Linked DNA regions of Homo sapiens. The protein of the gene in region 3 interacts with the protein of the main gene of each other region in a pairwise test. Each region holds a gene or a part of one and is shown on either strand. Other genes may lie near its edges.

Region 1 (7,879 bases), on a different chromosome or scaffold from region 3:
GTCCAACCTCTAAGGCCCTGGTGGGGGCTGGGAGGCTTTGAGCTCTGGCCATCCCCTACCAACAGGACCCTGATAAAACCTTGGGCCTGCGGGATCTCGGGAAGGAGAGCTCCTTAGTAAGAAATAAGTGGTCTGGGTGCGGGTGGGAAGAGGACGCCCGAAGGCCAGCGGAGGAGGGCAGGAAGGCAGGCGAGGCGCCGACGGGACCCGGGATGCGCCTTGGGCAGCGAGCGAGCCCCCACCTCCACGTTCCAGGCTCCCTTTGTGCTCACCCTCCCTCCTCCCAAAGCCGGGCGAAGGGCGCCAGGCAGCGCGCACGGGAGGGAGCGGCGGGGGGCGGGCCGGGAGCGGAACAGCTCGCGGCTCTGGAATGCCAGGCATCCAGGTCACCCGCGGCTGCAAGATTAATGGCTCCAGCGAGGAGCCAAGAACAGCTCGGCGCTCACTCGCTCCCCGGGGAGCGGAAACGCCTCCCGGCCGGCCCCCCTCTTCTCACCCACTAGCAAGCTCCCAGAAACCCGCCCCATGGCTTCCTTTCTTTGGCAGAGTCAGGCTCCAGAAGTCCGCCTTCCTCCACAGGCACCCTAATCTGCCGTGCCCTTGCAGCTTCTCCTCCCCAGACTCCTCAGGGAAACCCCAGGGCTGCCCCCTCCCCTTTCTCCCTCCTTCCCTTTGACTCCTTCCCAGAGACCTTAAGCCGCTGCCATCTCACCCCACCCAGCCAGAAGAGACCAGCCTACCTCCTGCCCCACCCTGTCAATTCCTTCAGTGCTGTGTTCCCCCATTCCCTGCCCTAGTCTTTGAACCCTCTTTGAAGGAAGATAGGGGTGCTGCCAGCCAGAGCTAAGTCCTCAAGCTGCTCCTCCATTTCTGCACCCCACACTACCCTTTGTGCCATTCACAGTAGGGTTCCTGTGAAGACTCAAAGCCATGTTTACCCAGCTACCAACCACTCCCATTCCACTTCTCTGCAAACACCTTGAACAGCACTAAAGCTCCTAGTAGGAGCTCAATAAATAACTGTTCTTAGTCTCTTCTGATTGCTAGAGCCTCCTGCTGCTGAGCTCAGGGCTCCCTTTGCCACCCACCCCATGTACCTCTTGAACTGCCCAATAGCTCCTTCACCTCTGGCTGGCTCTCCACCCCTGCCATCCCCACAGAGCCCCTCTCTCAGGCCACCGGGGCTCCTAATCACCGGTTTCTAGGGCCACCCCCGTTGTTCTTTTGCATCTGTGGGAACCTGCTCCTTTCTTAAGCTCACCACTTCCTTCCTGACCTCCCTGCCATGGTACCTTCCTGGGCCTGCTCCCATTCTCTCTTGAACATCTGCCAGTTGCTTAAAACACATCTGCTAATGAATGAATAAATGGACTAGTCAATGAACTTGCCCATTCTTCAAGGATGCTTAGACCGCCCCGTTTAGAATGCATCTGTTGGTTAAGGTCTAGGATCCCATTTTTGGCTGCCTCAGATGCCTCCACTTGGCTTGCTATGGCTCAGCTCCACCATGCCCCCCTACCTCTCACATTCCCATTGCACACTCCCGACCTTTCTGTTGCCAGGAACTCCCTGGGAAGCTCTCAGACCTGTCCTTCTCCTTCACCTCATCTGTCTTCAGGGCTACCTTGCCTCCCGCACTGCCCAATGCACTGCACTGGTGGTCAGCACCGAAGCTCAGCAAATCACTGCTCCCTGGCTTTCCCTCTTGTGTCAGCTGATCTTCTTAAAAGATACAGAACTAGATCCTATTCTTCTTTGGAAGCCACTTATCCCCACTATCCCCAGATCCAGTCTAGTGTTGGGCATACAGTGGGCAGTAAACCTGCTCCCAAAGTACTACTTTGCAAGGGGGAAGGCCAATCTTCCTAGTCCAGAGGGTGTGCAGCAGTCCCATTGCCTGCACACAGGCCAGGCTTCTTAGTGGGGCCCCTACTCACTCTGAGCAAGCAGCTTGGCCACCATGTCCTGACTGCCGGCCTGGGCCTCCTGTGTCTTGCTTGCCAGGCGGCGATTTGCAGATTCCAATCTCTCTGTTTCAAGGGAAGGAAAGATGTTTTAGTGTCAGGTGAAGCTGCCAGCTTGGGATTTTTCCTGACGTCCTATCAGGATGGGGCTGTATCCTCCATATTGGGGATGGGTTCATAAGGAAACCCCAGCTCAGCTCAGGGCCCCATGGGTGGGAGCCTCCTCTGTCAAGAGCCATCATCCCTGAGGGGATCCTAGGCCCAGTACATAGAGACAAGCATCTCTCTATCAGGGCAGCTCCAAAGGGGTCTCAGCCTGGCTCTCTGAGTTCATCTGCACTTTTGACAGAGAATAGAGATTCCCAATTTTTCTCTAGAACAAAAGAAGTAAGTCCTCTGCAGAGGTTCTCCAACCTCCACCTGTGTGACTGGCTCTCACCTCTAAGATCCCGGTTGAAGTCTTGCAGCCTCCTCATTTCACTGTCCATCTTGTTCCGCATGGTCTTCTCCAGGGCCTCACGCTTGGAGGAGGCTCTGGTCAGGCTCTCATGGGCCTCAGAGAGCCGCTGGATTTCGCTTTCCAGCTGCAAGAGTCAGACAGCAGAGCTGAATGAAGGCGAGAGCTCCCAGGGAGTGATTCGAGGCTGACCCACTACTCTCCATCAGAAAAGGTGACAGATGAGAGGCCACCAAACAGGAGCAAAACCTCCAGGTGACTATGGTGGGATGGTCAGAAGCTTGTAGCCTCCGGAAGTAGAATAGACTGCTGGGACCAGCAAGCAACGGTCCCATCGGCTGCCCCAAGGACCAGATGCTGAGTGAACCCAGGGCCAGGTACTTTGGAAGTAGCTGCCTGCGGGGTGACTAAACACAGCTTCCCTGTGCCCAGTGTCCAGAAGGAAACATTCTACTCTTGGCTGGCTTCCACCAAGAAACTGAGTACAGTTGGCCAGAAGTGGGCACCGAAAGACTCCAGCCATGATGGGGTGGTTTGACCTAACTTGGACACCACAGGACAGTCAAGGGAGGCCTGAGGCCATCTGCTAAAACTGAGCCTCAGCGGAAAACTGGTAACCCTTCACTAAAGAAGCGGGCACCAGGCAGAGCTGCCTCTGCCTGGTGTCCCAGGCATCACCATCCACCCAGAGGGCCAGCTGGGCCCCGGCTGCTCCTCCCACTTGGCTGCTGGCAGGTTCCGCACGTGCTCTTAGCTGGCCTGTGATTCCAACAAGTCGCCCATTTTTTTTCCAAGAGGAGAAGTTTTCTTTTTGGCCAGGGCTGGCCTGGAACAGACTTGCTGTTGTGTGGGGGACACAAAGGGCTCTCTGTGGGAGGTGTCCATGGGAGGGGGTGTGTGCAGGGCAAGGGTGCGAGTGTGCAAGGAGCTGGTGAATGGGCTCTTTCTAATCACCACTGGCCAGCAACTGTTCATGCTCCAGGCCTGCTCTGCCGGCCTCTCGGCTGTTCCCCAGCTGTCTGGAGTCAGCTCAGGAGGGTGCATGAGGAGTGAGGGAGGTGGAAGACAGAGGGATAGGGAGAAATCCAGCCAAACAGTTTTCAGGCTCCTCTGCCTCTCCTTGGACTACCCACTCCCCAGGTAGCCCCTCGGGGTCTCTTTCTGGTCTGCCCTTCTGAAGCCCCAGCAGGGCCTACCTTCTCAATGCGGCCAGCCTTCTCCGCAGAGCTCTCCAGCTCCCTCTGCAGCCGCTCATTGTCTCTCTGCAGCCTGGCATTCTCCCTCAGCACGGCCTCCATCTGGGCCAGGTGGGCACTGCCCGAGGTGGCTGAGGAGGCCTGGGCACTCACTGGCCCCTCCACAGCAGGTGGACTGAGGGAGCTCAGGGGGCCATGGCCGAGAGCAGCTGGATGTGGGGGAGGGGGGTGCTCCTGAGATTGCTGCAGGTACTGGTACTGCTGCTGCTGTTGGAGGAACACAGGAGGCACCTGGGCCTGCAGGATCCTGGGGAACAGAAGAGACGGTGCTCAGAGACAGCACAGACCCTCATGGCTCCCACCAGAGCAGCCCGGGGTCACCCCACTCCTAGGCATACTGGGAAGATGGTTAATTATTATCAATAATTAATATATTATTAAAATTACTGCAGATAATTATTCAACCCTCTAGTGTTAGGCAGGGACCAGTAGGGAAGGCCTTTTCCAAATGTTTCTGCCTGAGGCTCTCAAGAGTCAGACAGCAGGGCTAGAGGGGATTAATGTCAGGATGCTTGTTTCATACCCGCCTCACAGTGGCTGGGGCCTTGGGGATCAGCCTGAGCAATCCTGGGCCTCCTAAGCAACTAATGCTTAAATACATCATCTTAAAAAATGCACCCTGACACTTCTAATCAATGGAAGGTTATTTTTGGGGCTGGAGGCCATGTCAATCATGACTGAGCATATAACCTTCCAGGCCCCAGGACAACTTTGGTGGCTGGGCCCCAGCAGCAACCTTGTGTCTATTACACGAGTCGCCAGTTTCAAGACTGCCAAAGCAGCACTCATTTTCTCCTTCCTATTTCAAGTCCTGCCACCCCCCACCCCCCACTCACCCAGAGTCATTTTTAGAAGACTCCAGTTAAGGTTAGAGCAATGAGACAAATGTCAGGGTAAGAGTCTGAGCTCTAGAGTCTGACAAATAGGGGTTCAAATCCCTGCTCCAGCTGTTTAACCTTGGGCGAGTGCCTCAGCCCCACAGACTGGGCATTGCTCTGTTGCATCATGAGGGTCTCCAGCCTCGCTGGGATTTGTTGAGGATGACGCTATGTAAGGCCTGGCAGAGTGCTGGGCCAGTGCTGGGCGGGTGGCAGGTGCTCCTATAATGGTGGCCCATCCTCCATCTCTTCTAGTAGGAGCCTCAGTTTACCCTCAGTTTAGAGAACAAATGTGGCCCAAACTCTTGGTTTCCTTGGGAGTAAGGGCTGCCTCTGGACTACTGTGGTCACTGAGTTCAGGGGACAATATTCTATTGGCCTCTGGCACTGGTGTAACATCACCCCCAGGGCTCCATGTTGAGGGAAGGAGCAAAGGGCAAGAGGCACGGGGAGTCCAAGGGCCTTCCTGGGACCTTGTGATTCCCAGTGTCACAACTGCCTCAGTTTCACAAAGAATCTTCCAAGTCCCAGAAGCCCCGCAAAAACCGAATTCCCCTTCTGGGTGCATCATCTCAGCACTAATGCACACCCAGCCTGCCCCTGACTCTTGCTGCCATGCAGCCTATGGCCCCCCTGCTCTTCTCAGGACCCTAGGCTAGGAGTCTAGCCCGTTTCCTAACAAATAATCTTCACTGGATCATCTGAAAGGAGATATTGGGCAGATGTATTTCTCCTACTACCTAAGGTGGGGCTTCCAGTAAGAGCTGGGAAGAGGGTCCCCACTGGAGTGCTCAAACTCTCCATTCCACTGCTAAAATGGCCATTCTCAAGGTTGCTTCAAGAACTTGCTCCCCCCTGCACTGGGCCAGGCAGACACAACTGGCATTCTTTGGGGATGACTTAGCTCTGAGAAAGAATAGCAACTCCTTTCCCTTCACACTTGCTTTCCTTTCTCCTCGTCCTCTCCCTCCCCTGCTTTTTGTTCTCCTGCAAACAGTCTACTTCCTTGCCGTGATTACTATCTTTTCCTGACAGGGTTCAATAAGGCTGGTCCAAAAGAAGAAACCACCACTCAGCTTCCGAAACTCTTCCTGACCGAGCCCTGAGAGGGGCGATAAAGTGCGAGTCTGGAGGGGTGGAGGCTGGAGAAAAACTATGAGGCTCCAACCTCTGGTTCCGCCATACCAACCCCATCATGTCACTCATTTCTCGAGAGCAAGGAAAGCCGGACGGTGGGAAAGTGGGTGTTTACTAAAGGAACACAGCAGGCATGAAGAGAACCAGACTTTGACCTTGGGCCACCAGAGGAAGAGTCTGAAATCCTTGGGGTCCCTTGGTGGGGTTTCTTGGACTCCCATAGGGGGAGATGCAGCAGTGATGGCTGTGTCTGCTTCTCTGGAAAAGATGCTGGGCAAGATGAGAAGCGTGAGGCAGGGCCTTGTTTCTAGGAACACTTATTTCTCCAAACTCTCTAGACTTCTTGCCTCCCCGGGTCTTCCTGCTTCCATTCTGGCCCCTTACAAACCATGCTCTGCATGTAGCCAGAGAGAGCATTTAGAAAAGGTAAACCAAATCACATCCCCTGAGGGCCTCCCAGCACACTCAGAATCAAACTCTAAGTCCCTACCATGGCCCAGCAGCCTCTCCTGAGCCTCACCAGAAAAGGGCCCACTTGGACCCAGAATCCTTTCCCACTGCAGGCTGCAGACGCAGGGAGCATATGGCAGGAAATGAAGAGGAGAGACAAGTAAGCTCCTGCCCTGGTGTAAGATGCTGAGAGGTCTCTAATCAGACCACTGGGCCTTTCCAGCCTCTAGTTAGGAATGCCTCCCAATAATCACAGAAAGCAAGCTGCTCATATTTTCTTAAAAAATCTCCAGAGAAGGAAGTCCCACCTTCTTCCTGCTTAACTTGGAAACAGTTTGGCAATCATTCCCAACCTTGCCTTTAGGAAGTTCTTTCTGAAATCTAACCTTTAACCCCCTGCTGCAATTTGTGTACTCTGGGGACTCTAGTTACTTGAATGCTACAGCTAAGCAGACAATGGTGCCTATCTCTGAATTAAGGCAAGGGACACCACTAACTTCTTAGGGGACCTCAGCTAAGTCCCTCTTCTCTGCCAGGCATTAGCTCTCCCTTCTCAGGTTGGAGGTGGGGTGGATCTTGCTAGCTCTGACACAAGCTGTGATCTTGAGGCTCTCCTCCCTGAGAGACCTGTGCTGGAAGAAAGCCAGGAGTTGGAAAGCCCAAGGTGGGGAGAGTTACCTGACTTCAGCATGCTGGAAGTGCGGGCTGCCGCGGGCACGGTACCGTGGGTCAGTGACAGCAGTGGTGGTCTCATGAGCTAGTACAACATGAGGGTACTGAGGTGGGGGTCCTCGGGACTCTGGGCCCTCAGCAGGGGGGCCCCTCAGTGGGGGGCCCTGCTGGTTGCGGGCCAGCTGTGGGAAGCTGTGGGAGGAGCTCATGTGGCTGGGGGCCCGGGCGCCGTTCCTCTCCAGGGACAACTGAAGGAGCCGTTCACTCAACGAGCGCACGTGCCCATGCCTCAGCTCCCGCAGGGCCTCGTCCTGCCTCCGACTGCCTCCCGGGGCCCCACGGGGATCTCGGTCCCCCGCATGTGGCCGGGTCCCTGCCTGCTGGGCCGCATAGTACTGCGAGTGGGCTTTGGCCTCCTCATAGGTGGGCAGCTCCTCTCCCTTGCTGGGCTGTGGGCATAGCCGGTAGAGGGTGTTCTCTGCCAGGTGGTTCTCACCGCCCTGGTGCTCCTGGCCCTGGGGCTCCTGCCTGGTGGCCTGCTGCAGCACCTGACTGTCCTCTGGGGCCAGGATCTCCAGGGAGGCCTGGGGGCTCCCTGTACCCCCAGTTCCAGCCCCACCCCTCAGGGCCTGCTGCTGGATGGCTAGCAGCGTGCGCGTCTCAGTCAGGTTGCCGTAGCGCAGCTGCTCCTGGATGAGGCGGTGCAGGACTGTCCCCGAGGAGTCTTCCAGTGTCCTCATGCTTCTTTGGCTTGCACACAGCTGCCTGGACAATGGCCGGTGGCACCTGGCCCCAGAGCACCTGGAGTGGGGTGGGGAGAGAGAGAGAGAAAAGCAATCAGTGGGAACCCATGGGAAAGGAGAAGGCTTTCCAGGATTTCCATTATTACTCTGGTGGAAAGCATAAAAGTGAAGAGCAGGGGTGGGGCGGTTCACACAAGCCTGGGTTCAAGTACCAGTGCTGCCATCTACTGATTAAGACAAGTTACCTAATCTCTGAGCCTCAGTTTCTCCACCAGAAAAATGCAAAGAATTCTGCTTGACTCATGGAGATGAGGAAAAAAAA
Region 2 (7,879 bases), on a different chromosome or scaffold from region 3:
GTGCTAGCAAACAAAACAAAACTTTTTACATGGGGGAAAGAAGTCCCCAAATGACTGCTAGGAAAAAGTGTGTTATATGTAATTCTGGTCAAATAAAATTACAATAAATTTCAAGAGATCTTCAAAATTCTTTTGTTGTACTGTAATTTTAAGATGTTTTAAATTATACAATGTTTCAAAAGGACAAGGATAGTATAATAGAAAACACATATAAACTTGCTTAATCTCACAAAAATCCCATGATGTCAGTACTGTTATTATCCCTATTTTACAGATAAGGAAACTGAAGTGTAAGAGATGTTAAAGTCACTTGTCCAAAGTCACAGAGCTGCTAAGCAGTGCTGCTGAGATTCTAGACTACTACTTCTAAATGCTATGCTATACTATTTTTCAATATGACAAATTATGCAGATGTAATGTTTTTTAAAATCAGGAGCAAATAAGAAAACAGAATGTTACAAATTATTGATCCCTTTTATCTAACTTTCCTCCTCCCCAGAGATAACCAGTGTACTGAAGCCCATATGTATTCATTCTTCCCATTCCCATTTTACTTTTACTACTGATTTATGTATCCTAAATAATAAAATCAACATAATCTTGCCAAAGAATAAAGTTCCCAGATTTCCTCATTTTGTGACACCCTTAATGTCTCAGTACTTTTTTTCACAGTACCTCTGGACCAAAAGGAATACTTAAGTTCCATTTAGTAAATAATTAAGTTCAAACTAGTATTTGTCCTAAGTTATTAGCTGTTTGAAAATACACATAAACTAAAAGAAAAATATAATATTTTATTCTTAAACAACCACACTTTACTACTTGGATGTACACTGTTAGGCACCGTACAGCACCTCAAATCGTGGAATCAGATTGGAGACCACCACTCTCACTTCCTATTCCACAATGATTTTCATACGGGACTTGCTTTTTATTATAGCAACCTCCAAAAACCTACCTTTACAAATAAGACATCATAGGAAGGACTATAGTATGGGTTTATAGTGAAAACTACAGCTAACAGATTGTGGGGGTCTGATAGATGTCCAGTGTCACTGTTTCCCTCAAACTCCAAAATACCCTGCAACACTTTAGGTGAGTGATTAATATATAGTATTGTTTTATGTGCTTTTATATTTTACATAAATAGCATCTCACTCTATCTATAGCCATATAAAAGTCTTGGACGCAGTGGTTTACGCCTGTAATCCTAGCACTTTGGGAGGCTGAGGTGGGTGGATCACCTGAGGTCAGGAATTCGAGACCAGCCTGGTCAACATGGTGAAACCCCGTATCTACTAAAAATACAAAACTTAGTGGGGCGTGGTGGTGCACATCTGTAATCCCAGCTACTCAGGAGGCTCAGGCAGGAGAACCACTTGAACCTGGGAGGCGGAGGTTGCAGTGAGCCGAGATCATGCCACTGCACTCCAGCGTGGGTGACAGTGCAAGACTCCATCTCAAAAAAAAAAAAAAGTCTTTATTTCACACAAAATTTTGCTTCTGAGGCTTAGCCACATATATACATATATATGTAGTTCATTCTACTGAAAGATTACACTTTATTCCTTTTTTGTTGGCTATTTAAGTTGCTTCTAATTTTGCCCTTAAAAACAGCACTGCAGTGAACATGTTTCCTTCTATGCCAATGTAAAAACTTTTGGCTAGGTTCTGGGGATACACCTAGAAGTGAAATTGCTGGATTATAGAAAATACATATCTTCAACTTTACTAGATATTGCAAAATTACTCTCCAAAGTGTACCAATTTATGCTTCTACCAGTAGCCTCTGGGTTCCTTTGCTCTACACATCTCTCCAAAACATGTCAAATTCATATGCATGAAATGGTATTTTACTGTGACCTTCTTAATGTACATCCTTTCATGTATTTAATGGTCTTACAGGTTTCTTTTTCTGTGATCTTCTTGTTGTATACTGTTATGGGCTCAATTGTGTGCCCCCAAAATTCATATGCTGAAGCTCTAACCCCTAGTACCTTAAAACATGACTCTTATTTGCAGACAGGGCCTTTAAAAAAGTAATTGAGCTTAAAAGAGGTCACAAGGGTAGGCCCTAATCCAGTATGACTGGTGTCCTTATAAGAGGAGGAAGAGACAGCAGCAAGGCATACACAAAGACAAAAGGCCATGTGAGACACTGCAAGAAGCTGGCCATCTGCAAGCCAGGGAGGGAGGCTTCAGTAGAAAGCAACCGTGCTGGCACCTTGATCTTGGACTGCCAGCCTCTAAGAATGAGAAAATCAATTTCTGTTGTTTACACTACCCAGTTTGTGGTGTTTTGTTATGGCAGCCCCAGTAAACTACTAATACATATACTTTGCCTGTTTTTCTATTACGTGCCTTTTTTTTTTTTTTGAGACAGAGTCTCTGTCACCCAGGCAGGAGTGCTGTGGCACGATCTCGGCTCATTGCAACCTCCACCTCCTGGGTTCAAGCAATTCTCATGCCTCAGCCTCCCAAGTAGCTGGGAATACAAGCGTGCACCACCATGCCCGCCTAATTTTTGTATTTTTAGTAGAGATGGGATTCCACCATGTTGGCCAGGCTGGTCTTGAAATCCTGACCTCATGTGATCTGCCCACCTCAGCCTCCCAAAGTGCTGGGATTACAAGTGTGAGCCACTGTGCCCGGCCTGAATTATGTGCCTTTTTCTTTTTTTTTTTGAGACAGAGTCTCACTCTGTCCCCAGGCTGGAGTGCAGTGGCGCGATCTCGGCTCGCTGCAAGCTCTGCCTCCTGGGTTCACGCCATTCTCCTTTCTCAGCCTCCCAAGTAGCTGGGACTACAGGCGCCCACCATCACACCCAGCTAATTTTTGTATTTTTGGTAGAGACGGGGTTTCACCGTGTTAGCCAGGATTGCCTCAATCTCCTGATCTCGTGATCCGCCCATCTTGGCCTTCCAAAGTGCTGGGATTACAGGCGTGAGCCACCGTGCCCAGCCATTATGTGCCTTTTTCTAAGTGACTTGTAGTTCTTTATTTTAGATACCAAATCTTTGTCAATTATACATATTGCATGTATCTTCACTCCATGCTTTTTACTTTATTATACTTTGGCCATACAGACGTTTTCTTAATGTAGTCAATGCATCGATTATGGATTGCATTTCTCCTGTCTTTTTTTTGAGACAGAGTCTCACTCTGTCACCCACGCTGGAGTCAGTGGCACGATCTCGGCTCACTGCAACCTTCGCCTCCCGGATTCAAGTGATTCTCCTGCGTCAGCCTCCTGAGTAGCTGGGACTACAGGCACGCGCCACTATGCCCAGCTAATTTTTGTATTTTTAGTAGAGGCGGGGGTTTCACCATATTGGCCAGGCTGGGTTTGAACTCCTGACCTCCTGATCCGCTTGCCTCGGCCTCCCAAAGTGCTGGGATTACAGGTATGAGCTACCGTGCCCAGCCCTGCATTTCTCATGTCTTAAGAAATCTTAGGCTGGGCGTGGTGACTCATGCCTGTAATCCCAGCACTTTGGGAGGCTGAGGCCGGCAGATCACAAGGTCAGGGGTTCAAGACCAGCCTGGCCTACATGGTGAAACCCTGTTTCTACAAAAACACAAAAAAACTAGCCGTACATAGTGGCAGGCAGCTGTAGTTTCATTACTCAGGAGGCCGAGGCAGGAGAATAGTTTGAACCCGGAAGGTGGAGGTTGCAGTGAGCCGAGATCGCTCCACTGCACTCCATCCTGGGTGACAGAGCGAGACTCCATCTCAAGAAAAAAAAGAAAAAGAAATCTTTTCTGTTGTCACAAAGGCATTTGATATGGTTTGGCTCTGTGTTCCCACCCAAATCTCATCTCCAATTGTAATCCCCACGTATTGAGGGAGGGACCTGGTGGGAGGCAATTAAATCATGGGAACGGTTTTCCCCATGCTGTTCTTGCGATAGTTGAGTTCTCACAAGATCTGATGGTTTCAAAGTGTTTGGCAGTTCCCCTGCCCCTCCTGTCGTCATTTAAGACATGCCTTGCTTCCTGTTTGTCTTGTGCCGTGATTCTGTTTCGAGGCCTTCCCAGTCATGTGGAACTGTGATCCAATTAAACCTCTTTTCTTTATAAATTATCCAGTCTCAGGTAGTTCTTTATGGCAGTGTGAAAACAGACTAATACAGCATTTTCTACACTTCTTTTATAAGTTAGAACTTTGCAGTTCACATGTAGGCCTTTACCCATGTGGACTTTATTTTGTATTTGGTGTGAGGTAAGGTTCTAATCATTTTCTGCATTGAGAGAGCCAACTGTTCCAGCACAACCAAATGAACACCCCCACTGGTTTATAATGACACCTCTATCAAATACCAGGTGTCCTCATATATAAATGGGTCTACTTTTGGACTTTGTCTTTTATTTATCCCACTGGTTTGTTACCCTTCTGCCTATAATACATTGTTATAATTACTATAACTAATAACTCTTGTTATCTAGCAGGGTAAGTCTCCACATCTTCTTTTTCAAAATTGTATTGGGTATTTTTTTTAACTTTTTCACTTCTGAATGGGGATGTTAGGATTAAGGTAGGATACATGAAATTGCATTAATCAATAGACTTCAGGAAAACTGACATCTTTACAATCTGAACATGAAACATTTAATTATTTTTTATGGCCTCCAGGAAAGTTTTATAATGTTTTTTAATGGAAACTTACACTTTTTGTTAGATTTATTCTTAGGTACCTTAGTTTGTGCTGTTACTGATAATAGTAAGTTTTTAAGAATTACTGTTTTACATTTGTTGTTGCTAGTGCATTGAATGCTATTGGTTTTTTAATATTAATTTTATATCTAGCTTTCTTCTAAACTTTCTTATTAGTTTTAATAGCTCATCTGTAGGTGCTTATGACTTTTCTATGTAGAAAAGTACATATTTGCAAATAATGATAATTACTTCTCTTCCTTTCTAATCCTTATAGCACTTATTGTCGCCCAGGCTGGAGTGCAGTGGCACCATCTCGGCTCACTGCAAGCTCCACCCCCTGGGTTCATGCCATTCTCCTGCCTCAGCCTCCTGAGTAGCTGGGACTACAGGCGCCCACCATCATGCCCGGCTAATTTTTTGTATTTTTAGTAGACACGGGGTTTCACCATGTTAGCCAGGATGGTCTCGATCTCCTGACCTCGTGATCCGCCTGCCTCGGCAGCGCTTATTTTTCTTACACCTGCATGTATTAAATTCCATAATTTCAATAAGCCTTGTCAAATCTTTTCATTTTAGTATTATTTGCAAGTATTAAAAATAAAGACATTTGTATACAGCATTTAGATTTACTTTAATAAACATGATCAGTGTAGGGCCCGGTGTGGTGGCTGATACCTGTAATCCCAACACTTTGGGACACCGAGGCAGGAGACTCACTTGAGCCCAGGAATTTGAGACCAGCCTGGGCAGCATAGTGAGATCCATTTCAAAAACAAAACCAAAAACATGATCAATGTATCTCATTATATGATTAAATCCTAAATAGCTTTCATCTGTCAATTTAGGATTAGAATAACAGATTTGGGGTTAAATCAACACACAGCTCTCTTTTTTTTTTTTGAGACAAGGTCTCACTATGGTTGCCCATGCTGCAGTGCAGTGGCGTGATCTCGGCTCACTGCAGTCTCAGCCTCCCGCGCTCAGGTAATTCTCCCACCCAGGCCTCCAAAATGGACCACGATGCCTGGCTAATTTTTTGTATTTTTAGTAGAGACGGGGTTTCGTCCTATTGCCCAATCTGATTTCAAACTAGTGGACTCAAGCAATCCTTCTGCCTTGGCCTCCCAAAGAGCTGGGATTACAGGTGTGAGCCACTGTACCTGGTGTTTTTTGTTTGTTTTGGTTTTTTTTGAGATGGAGTTTCGCTCTTGTTGCCCAGGCTGGAGCGCAATGGTGCAATCTCGGCTCACAGCAACCTCCACCTCCTGGGTTCAAGGGAGTCTCCTGCCTAAGCCTCCCAAGTAGCTGGGATTACAGGCATGCACCACCACACTCAGCTAATTTTGTATTTTTACTGGAGACGGGGTTTCTCCATGTTGGTCAGGCTGGTCTTGAACTCCCGACCTCAGGTGATCCACTTGCCTCAGCCTCCCAAAGTGCTGGGATTACAGGCGTGAGCCACCGTGCCTGGCCCCCGCTTTTTTTTTTTAAGAGACAGGTTCTCCTTCTGTTGCCCACTGGAGTGCAGTGACATGATCATAGCTCATAACAGCCTTGGACTTCCTGGCTCAAGCAATCCTCCTGCCTTGGCCTTCCAAAGCACTGGTATTATAGATATGATCCACCACACCCAACCTCAATACACATTTAAGGATACTTGTATAGTAGAAAATTTTTGTGTCTGAGTCTGAGACTTGATCACGGCTCATTCATTTAAAGCTACACAATCCTGGGCAAGTTACTCTCTGAGCCTTATTTTCCTTATCTGTAAAATGAAGATAAAAACAGCCCTTACTTCAATTTTTTAAAATTCTTATTTCAATAAGATTTTTTTGTGGATTAAGTGTGATGATGTATATAAAGTGCTTAGCACAAAACCTGGCTATTGTTACTATCACGGAACACAAAAAAAAGTTTCTCTCTTTTGCATATTGCTAACAAGTAGATACTTACCATTTAACAAATTGTCTAGTGTGCCATAAGCATCTTCACAAAGTGTGGATTCATACTCATTTTCCCTTTCAAAATTCTTTATTTCGTTCTGTATTAATAAAAAAGGCATCAATACTTCAAGCAAACATCACAAGCTTCTTCTAAAGGTATTTGCACATTGTTACATAATTCTGCTATTAGAATATTTCATTACATAGGTAGAATGTGCTTTCTAGTATCTTTCCCCAGCATGTATTTGGCTCCCTTTTAGTAAAACTATGCTAACAGAGTCCCAATATTAAACAACAATGTAACAAATAGCTTGTTATTTTAATATTTTGGTTTTTTGGTAAGTCAAATCATGTGACTATAAACTTAGGGATACGTGATAGCATATTTATGTATTGATAATTATTTGATGTTTATTAAATCTAGTCTAAACAGCATTAAGATGGTTATTTCAGTCTTTTAACACTGAAGATATATAAAACAGGCATATATCTTTGATGTATTTTTATAAATTCCTATTTAGTGGAATCAGATGTCACTGACTATCAAACGTTTAGCACAACACTCATGAAGATATTGGGACATTACAATCTTTTATTTTTTAATAAAGGGAGCTAGGCATTTTCATGAAGACAGGAAAGTTGTCATTTATATGCAGGGTGCTGTCAATGTCATTATGAATGACAACTGAATCATTTGCATACTGATGTAAGTGGAAGATGCATTAGACTAGAAGTCAGGTTCCTTGGGCTCTTGTCCTGCCTCTGACTGAATTGGTCACGTCCCCTGGCTGCACTCCTGGCTAGAAAGGATCAGTTTTAACACTGTGTGTAAAAATGTACCTTGCTCTCTCGCATAGGCTGGAGTGCAGTGGCGCGATCTTGGCTCCCTGTAACCTCTACCTCCCAGGTTCAAGTGATTCTCCTGTCTCAGCCTCCAGAGTAGCTGGGATTACAGGTGCTCGCTTCCATGCCTGGCTAATTTTTATATTTTTAGCAGAGATGGGGTCTCACCATGTTGCCCAGGCTGGTCAAAATGTATCTTACGCTAGCGAAACTGGGAAAACCAGACCCTGTATTCCCCTCCTTTATGTGTCCACCGAATATTGTTTTATTGTTCCTTATAGTTTTGAAGAAATTTTCATATGGAAGACAATGTGAATTCTGAATACATCTGAGCCTCCTGGAACTTATAAGCAATGCACACCTGAGGCAAGTCACAAGTGGTGCCGGTGGTTTCCATACAGATTGGAGAATGTGAAAGCATTACACCTTGAGAAAG
Region 3 (7,000 bases):
TGGGCCCTGGGCAGCCAGAGCCACACATTCCCTCTCCATGGGCCTCTGCTGAGACCTATAGGGCTTCACATGCATGCAGTGCAGTCCCAGGGCCAGCAGCATCAGCATCCCCTGGGAACATGTTAGAATGGCAGTCTCAGGCTCTACGCAGACCCACTGAATCAGTATCTGTATTTTCACAGGATCCTCAGGTGATCCACAAGCACATGAAAGTGTGAGAAGCCCTTCCTCTTGCTGAACAGTTTCCTCATCCAAGCTCCTTCTCTTCCATTGTTTCTTAGGGAAGCCAGAATACCTCCCGGATTTCCTAGGGAGTGCACTGGATTTTATGCCAGTTTGATTACCCACAGTTTTCTTCCTCATTCATTCATTCATTCAGTCAGTCAGTCAAATAGTAATTGAGCACCTCCTGTGTTCCAGTATGTGTTCTGTCTGCACCCCTGGTCCTCCTGGCCTTGACTTGCTGGGTTACTTCTGTTAGGATGGGAAGAACTTGGGACTTGGTGTATGAAAGCCACTTACTTGGGCAGGTAGACACTGACACATGAGCAGGAGAGAAGTTACCTTGGTGTCAAGTGCCGACCTTAGAGTTTGAGACAGGTGGAGGAGTGTGAAATGCAGCCCCCGTGGGGAGACCCATCACATGTCCCATGTGCACAGGCTGTGTGCTGTCCCATTTGGCAGCACACTGCAGTAGCCCCACCAGGCTGATGACAATTGAGAAATGCATCCACCCAAAGCAGGAACTCTGTGTCGGAGTTTAGGAGCACCTGAGCTGTTAGGCCAGCCCGGCATCTCCTGAAGGCCCACTCTCCCTTTGTGTGGTAAGACCCCCTCTGTGGGGGTGTGATGAGAGCAGTACTCAGAACAGCAACCACAGCTGAAGCCCACTAAGGAATCCAGGAGATGTGCTGGGCCCTGGAGTGGGAGCACCTTGCCACTGGATTAAAAAACCTGCCAGTCAGGGCTTTAACTGGGAAACAGGTGACAGTCCAGCAGGGCCCTGCATTCTGGTCAGACTGAGAATGAGGACATGTGAAACAAAGGCCAGTAGATATGGTCTGGGGCAGCCTAAATCTTCCCACTTCAATGCTGCTTCTCCCCCAAGGGGAACTTTGGGGTGCAGAGGCTGAAACAGCAGTTGGAGAGACGTGTGGACTCATCTGTGAGGAGCTGAGGAAGCCAAGAACAGGGATCCGGAAACCGGGGTTGACGCCACCTTAACTTCAGAGTAGATGATAGGGGAACCCTAGGAGGCAAGAGCACATGCGTGAGGACCAGGGTGGGCCTGGGGGTGGGGGAGGGCATGCAGAAGGGGAGACTCACCTTGTTCCTGAGATGCCTGGGGTCAGAGGCCACTGTGGAAAGAGGAAAGTGTTCAGTTGTGGAAGACTGGCATGGGGCTCTTCCCTTGTGCCTGCGCTGTGGGGCCAGCCCTGAGCCTCCTGGAGGCCCGCTCTCCCTCTGTGCGGTGAGTAGCCATTCCTCTTAGTTGGTGCTCACCCAGTCCCTCTCCATTCCCAACTCCCTCAGCCTCTCAGCACTGACAGACCCTCTCTTCAACTCCCCTTCACACTTTGTGGCCCACTCTGAGCTGCCTAGAGGCCCTCAAGAGAAAGTCATTTGTCTTTTATCTTGTTAGTTATTTGAGCATAATTGGTATTATTGTTCTGGGAAGGTGTGGTGGGTGCAAGTTTTAGAGAGCACACTCCATCAGGGTCTAGACCACCTGAAACTGAGCCTGCCGCCTGTCTTGTCACCTCCGTGGTTGGGGGAAGTCACTCAACATCTCTTGCCTCAGTTGCCTCATCTATATGATGGGAATAAAAATATCCTCTGCCTGTAAGGTTGTGGTGAAGCTATATGAGTTTACACATATGTGTGAGCACATGTATCTGTGTGTCTGTGCATATATTATTTCTATCATCTGTCATGTATTGAGCAGTTTCTATGTGTCAGGTACAGTCCTGATTGCTATATTCAATACATTTTCTCTCTCTCTATTATCATATGTATGCATGCCATAGTTCTATATAAGTGCTACAGGTATAGTTCTAAGAGCTATCCATACAAATATAGTGTATTTATTTATCGCACTTATAGAACTATACCCAGCACATAATAGGAACTATTCAGCACATGATAGATATTATAAATTATTATTGTTATATTATCATCAAACTGGAGAGAAATATGACATTCTCCAGACAAGGCTCTGCCCTTTTGGCTTGGAATGAGCATCAGGACTCCCTGGAATTGCATGAAGAAGCAGAGTTTGGTCTAGAGTTTGGACTCTGGAGAAGACTGTTTGGTGATTGACTATAAGATTTCAGGCAAGTCATTTAAGGTGTCTATGCCTTGGTTTCCTCATCTGTAAAATGGGAGTAGTAACAGCGCATACCTCAAAGGGGCTTGTAAGAGTGAATGAGTTCACATGTCTCAGAGGGGTGCTATAGAACCAAGAATGAGGCACAAACACAATTCACTTGACTTTATATAAGAAAAATTAGAAAACCAGAGAGGGAAGCACACTGGCTAAAATCACGCAGCACTTTTTATGAAGCAGAGGTAGAAAGAAAAGCCTGCCGTGAAGGACTTTGTTCCTCTTTCCTGCTCCGAGTAAGGAGGCAGCCGGGCTGGGATTCCCTCATTTCAAACCACCGACTGTGAGTGAGGGTTGATGACATAGCCAGACCTCCAGCATGTAGTCATCGTCACAGCTGCTCAACCCTCTGCAGTTTCGACAGCATTTCCACACCTATTTTCTCATTTAGTCCCCACAGTTACCCCATGAAACAGCATGGTAGCTGTAATAATGTGCCCCCAAAGATGTCACGCCCTAATTGCTGCAACCTGTGACTATATTACCCTAAGTGGAAAAGAGGACCTTTCAGATGTGATTAGGATTACAGACCCTGAGATAGGGAGATTATTCTGGGTTATCCAGATGGGCCCAATATACTCATATGATTCTCTAAAACCCAAGGACTTTTCTCAGGTGAGGTCAGAAGGAGGCCTGTCTATGGAAGAATGATTAGAGAAATGTGACTTTGCTGGCTTTGGGAAAGGAAGGGGACATGGGTGCAGGAAAGTGGATGGGCCTCCAGGGAGGAACACAGCCCTGCCAACACCATGATTTTAGCCCAGTGAGACCGGCGTCAGACTTCTGACCCACAGAGCTGTAAGATGATAAATTTGTACTGCTTCATCCCCCCAAATTTATGGTCATTTGTCACAGCAGCAATCAGAAACTAGTACAGGTAGGTAGGTGCTATCAACTAAATATTTGTGTTGCTCTCCAAATGTATGGGTTAAAACCTAATCCCCAATGTGATGGCATTTGGAGGTGGAGCCTTTGGGTGACAATTATGTCATGATGATTATCATGATGAGACATGAAAGATGATCTCTCCCTCTCTCTCTGCTGTGTGGGGGATACAGCAAGGAGTCATCTGTCTGGAAAATGGGAATAGGGCCCTCACTAAGAACCTGACCATGCTGGCACCTTGATCTTGGATTTCCAGCCTCCAGAATTGTGAGAAATAGATATTAGTTCTTTAAGTCACCTAGTTTATGGTACTCTGTTACAGGAGCCAGAACTGACTAAGACAGTAGGGAAGTAGTCACAGTTTATGGATAGGGATATGGAAGGTCTGAGAGGTTAAGCGAATGCCCAAAAAGATAGTTTTGTTATTCAGGTTATACTGGGGCCCTCTGCAGAGAATAGGGAAAGGAGAGTGCAGGGGAGGCTTGGATTCACCTGAAGCAGCATAGGCACACATAAAGAAGCCCCATGACCCAGTGGGAGGGGCGGCTCTATGCCTGTCTGGCTCAGATCTGCTGAGTGGGTAGAAACTGAGCTATACTGTCTAAGTTGAGGGTGGGCCAGAACAGAGACATCCTTGGGTCTTACCTGCATGTTTCTTTTTCTCTTGGATGATCCGTACTTCTGAGTAAACCACATTTTCTCCTCTAGGATTTGCTTAGAAAAAAGTTGAAGTTTCAGAGGATGCTGAGGTTCTTGCCTCTTGTTAGAGATACTTCCTCCTCCCCCAGCCAGAGTCTCTTTTCTGGAAGGACTAGAGCCCTCTAGGCCTCGGCATAGTCCCTCCCCATCTCCTGCCCCACCGCTTTCCCACACCAGCCCTCCAGCTTCTGCCAAATGCAGGATCCTCGGGCCTCACCATTAGTGTACACTGGTTGCAGCTCTTCCCAGGCTGGTACATTGTGATAGGTGGGCTCTTGGGAGTCCGAGTCTGAAGGGCTCCTGTGAGACAGAGAAATGTGAATGTTTCTTAGGAATCCAGACAAAGTAGCTATAATGATCACTCCTAGTGAGTGACTTCTTACTGCAGGGTGGCTGCCAGGCCTGGAAACATGAACAAGTACATAACAAACTGACCATGGGCATTCTATTATGAATCATAATCATATTATATATGTTTCCAGGCTTTCTGGTCATCTAGTGTGTAACAGGCATGGTGCTGATGCTTACAGCAATACGTTGTTAGTTCTATTTCATCCTCGTTTTAGCTGAAACAAACGGAGGCTCCAATAAGTGACTTATGAAGATCATGTAACCAGAAAGGGGATGAGCCAAGGCTCAAAGCTGGCTCCGAACCCTGCATGCTCAGAGAGATCAGTGACCAGAAGGCTCCGAGGTGCTCTACATGTTTGGATGCTGCTATCGTGGGCTTGCCCAGGGATAGCTGTGAGCCTTTGTGTGGCTCCTAAAGTCAGCCTTAGGGATACAAGATGGTGGCCCCTTCTTCACAGGGACTACCTCCTGCTGGCAGAGTGACCTCTCTGGGTGGCCAAGTTGTGCGGCTCCATCTTCTCAGTTGTTATCACAAGAGGTGTTGATGAGATCAGCATCTCCAGAGATTTCTAGGTTGACTGAGCTAAGGTCATCTCAAGATATGGAAAGACTTGGTGGTCATAGTGGTCATTCAGACAACCAAGCCAACAATGGTCCAAGGATGTGGGTTAATAAATGAAAAGGCAATTAATACTTGATGAGATAACAGCCTATACAGCTAAGGGGGTGGGTGCAAAGGTCCTGGGAATTGCCTTAAGATATCCCCAGGGACGTACAACAGGTAGTGGCCACACCCCAGCTCAGCAGCACCTGGCAGAAACTGTGCTCTTGGTAATCATCAGATTCAATTCCATTTTTCCACCCTGTGGACATTTCACTAATCACACAGGAATGCAGCTCAGCTCTTACCTGGCGGGGTCAGAGGCAGGCTTTCTCCCTGTAAAGGAAAGCAGAGGAGCATTGGATTCAGGAAGATGAGACCCTCAGTGGGGCACAGCTCAGGCAAGGCTCACTTAGAAACTGCCAGGAGTTGCTGTCACTGAAGGTTGAATCCTTCTTTGTTATGCCCCAGGGAGGTAGCAGATTGGGCAAAAACTACTGACCCTGCCAGAGGGGTTTGCTATGATGTGAAACGGGAGTCCACAATCCGTAATCCTTTAACCTGGAGATTTTAAAGATAATCTCCAAGGCAGGAAAACAGACTTGATCAACTATAAAAATAGTGTACATTTAAAAAATCGGAAAATTACTGAATCCTATCTGGTTTCTATTTTCATTTCTATTTCTCTGAGTTTTTCTCCTCCTCTTCCCATTCGTTGGGGGGGTCTTATAAGGGTCGAGAGGAAGACACTCTGTAGTTTATGATGTTGGATAAACTACATCTCATCAAGACGTCTCCCACCTTATAGGTCTGTTTTGGAAACTGTGCATTTGGTAAAAGCAATTCGGGAGGACCCAGCGGGAAAGGAAGAGGATTGAGGGACAGAGCGGATGAGCTCTTGCGAGCCTGGGATGGTCACAAAGGCAGCATGAAGCCCAAGGGAGCGTTGCTGGGAAGGGCATGAACTCAAGCCAAGGTGTGCCCAGAGTCACCCACCTGCTTTTCTCGAGAGCCAGCAGTAGAGCAGCAGTGCCCCCGCAGCAAGGCCTGCTATGCTGAGCAGGCCCCCGGCGACTCCTGTGGCAAAAGGGCCACTTCTGTTCGCGGTCAGCCCTGAGGGGGAGACCCTGTGTGTGAGCCAGAGGAGAGGCTGTGGTCTGGAACTGCCCGCTCCCGGAAGCTGCTGCCTGGGCCTGACGGTGAACCTAGGTGAGCAGGTCCCCGGCAGCTAAGCAGGGGCTGGTGTGGCACAGAAGATGGCTCCTGTCTTTGTGAGGAAGCCGTCTCTGCGCCTGAGACAAGTGTCCAGGGTCAGGGTGGCCGGTGGCCAGTGAGAGAGGAGGCAGCCAGGTGAGGACCTCTAAAGTCAGTGGCGCTCTTGCGCCCAGCCCGCCAACCCGCGCTCTCAGCCCCAACGCCATCACTTCAGAAGCACTTCAGGAAATATAGCAGTTTAGAGAGCTGCCAGCTGTGTTACTTCGCCCTGAGGAGTGCCTTTCTGATCAAGCACTGTGAGGGTTATCAGAGGGTCCGCGGAGGAAACATTTTGTCCGCATCTGTGGCCCGGGCACGGGAAACTTACCTGTGATATAAAGTGTCACTGTCTCACTGCGCTGGGCCCCGAGGCCATTGTCGGCCTCACAGGAGTAGTTTCCAGAGTGCTCTGCAGTCAGAGAGAGGTTTAAGGACGCTCCTCCAGAGGGGGACGACCTATTTCCTAGGGTGACATCCTCATGAAAAAACCGGTACAGGATCAGGGGAGAGCCTCTCAGGGCCTCACAGTGAAGCTCCAGCAGGTCCCCCACCGCAGCATGGGTCCCGGGAGCCCTGAGGGTGAGGACCGGGCGAGACACCGGAACTGAAAGAGAACAAAAAGTCAACAGCAGTTTCTGCTTCTAACATATTTGTAAGAAACAAAAGGTATCATAAACAAATGTAAAAAGTCATATCTCAATCTTGGAAAGTAGATTAAAACATAGATGATAAAGCTAATTACTTTGACCTGCTAATAGTTTTCAGTGTACAAAAATATCCAATAGAAAACTGTAAAAAGTGTATAAATCACTGAAAACTTCAAATAG

What was found.
Region 1: the proteins of FCRL5 (region 3) and AMOTL2 interact in binary tests that used the Homo sapiens proteins (3 or more experiments, as listed by UniProt).
Region 2: the proteins of FCRL5 (region 3) and CAGE1 interact in binary tests that used the Homo sapiens proteins (3 or more experiments, as listed by UniProt).

The regions. Positions count from the first base shown.
Region 1 is NC_000003.12:134,363,880-134,371,758, forward strand, and holds part of AMOTL2 (angiomotin-like protein 2), read right to left. Parts: intron 7,616-7,879; coding exon of another isoform or gene 7,555-7,615; coding exon 6,821-7,554; intron 3,984-6,820; exon of another isoform or gene 3,925-3,983; coding exon 3,618-3,924; intron 2,549-3,617; coding exon 2,404-2,548; intron 2,031-2,403; coding exon 1,938-2,030; intron 1-1,937. UniProt on the Homo sapiens protein: Regulates the translocation of phosphorylated SRC to peripheral cell-matrix adhesion sites. Required for proper architecture of actin filaments.
Region 2 is NC_000006.12:7,379,175-7,387,053, forward strand, and holds part of CAGE1 (cancer-associated gene 1 protein), read right to left. Parts: coding exon 7,805-7,879; intron 6,699-7,804; coding exon 6,611-6,698; intron 1-6,610.
Region 3 is NC_000001.11:157,514,516-157,521,515, forward strand, and holds part of FCRL5 (Fc receptor-like protein 5 isoform 1 precursor), read right to left. Parts: intron 6,778-7,000; coding exon 6,502-6,777; intron 6,047-6,501; coding exon of another isoform or gene 6,033-6,046; coding exon 5,916-6,032; intron 5,256-5,915; coding exon 5,228-5,255; intron 4,268-5,227; coding exon 4,185-4,267; intron 3,983-4,184; coding exon 3,914-3,982; intron 1,359-3,913; coding exon 1,327-1,358; intron 1,250-1,326; coding exon 1,160-1,249; coding exon of another isoform or gene 1,087-1,159; 3' UTR 1-1,086. UniProt on the Homo sapiens protein: Plays an important role in B-cell response to antigen that acts both as a negative or positive coreceptor.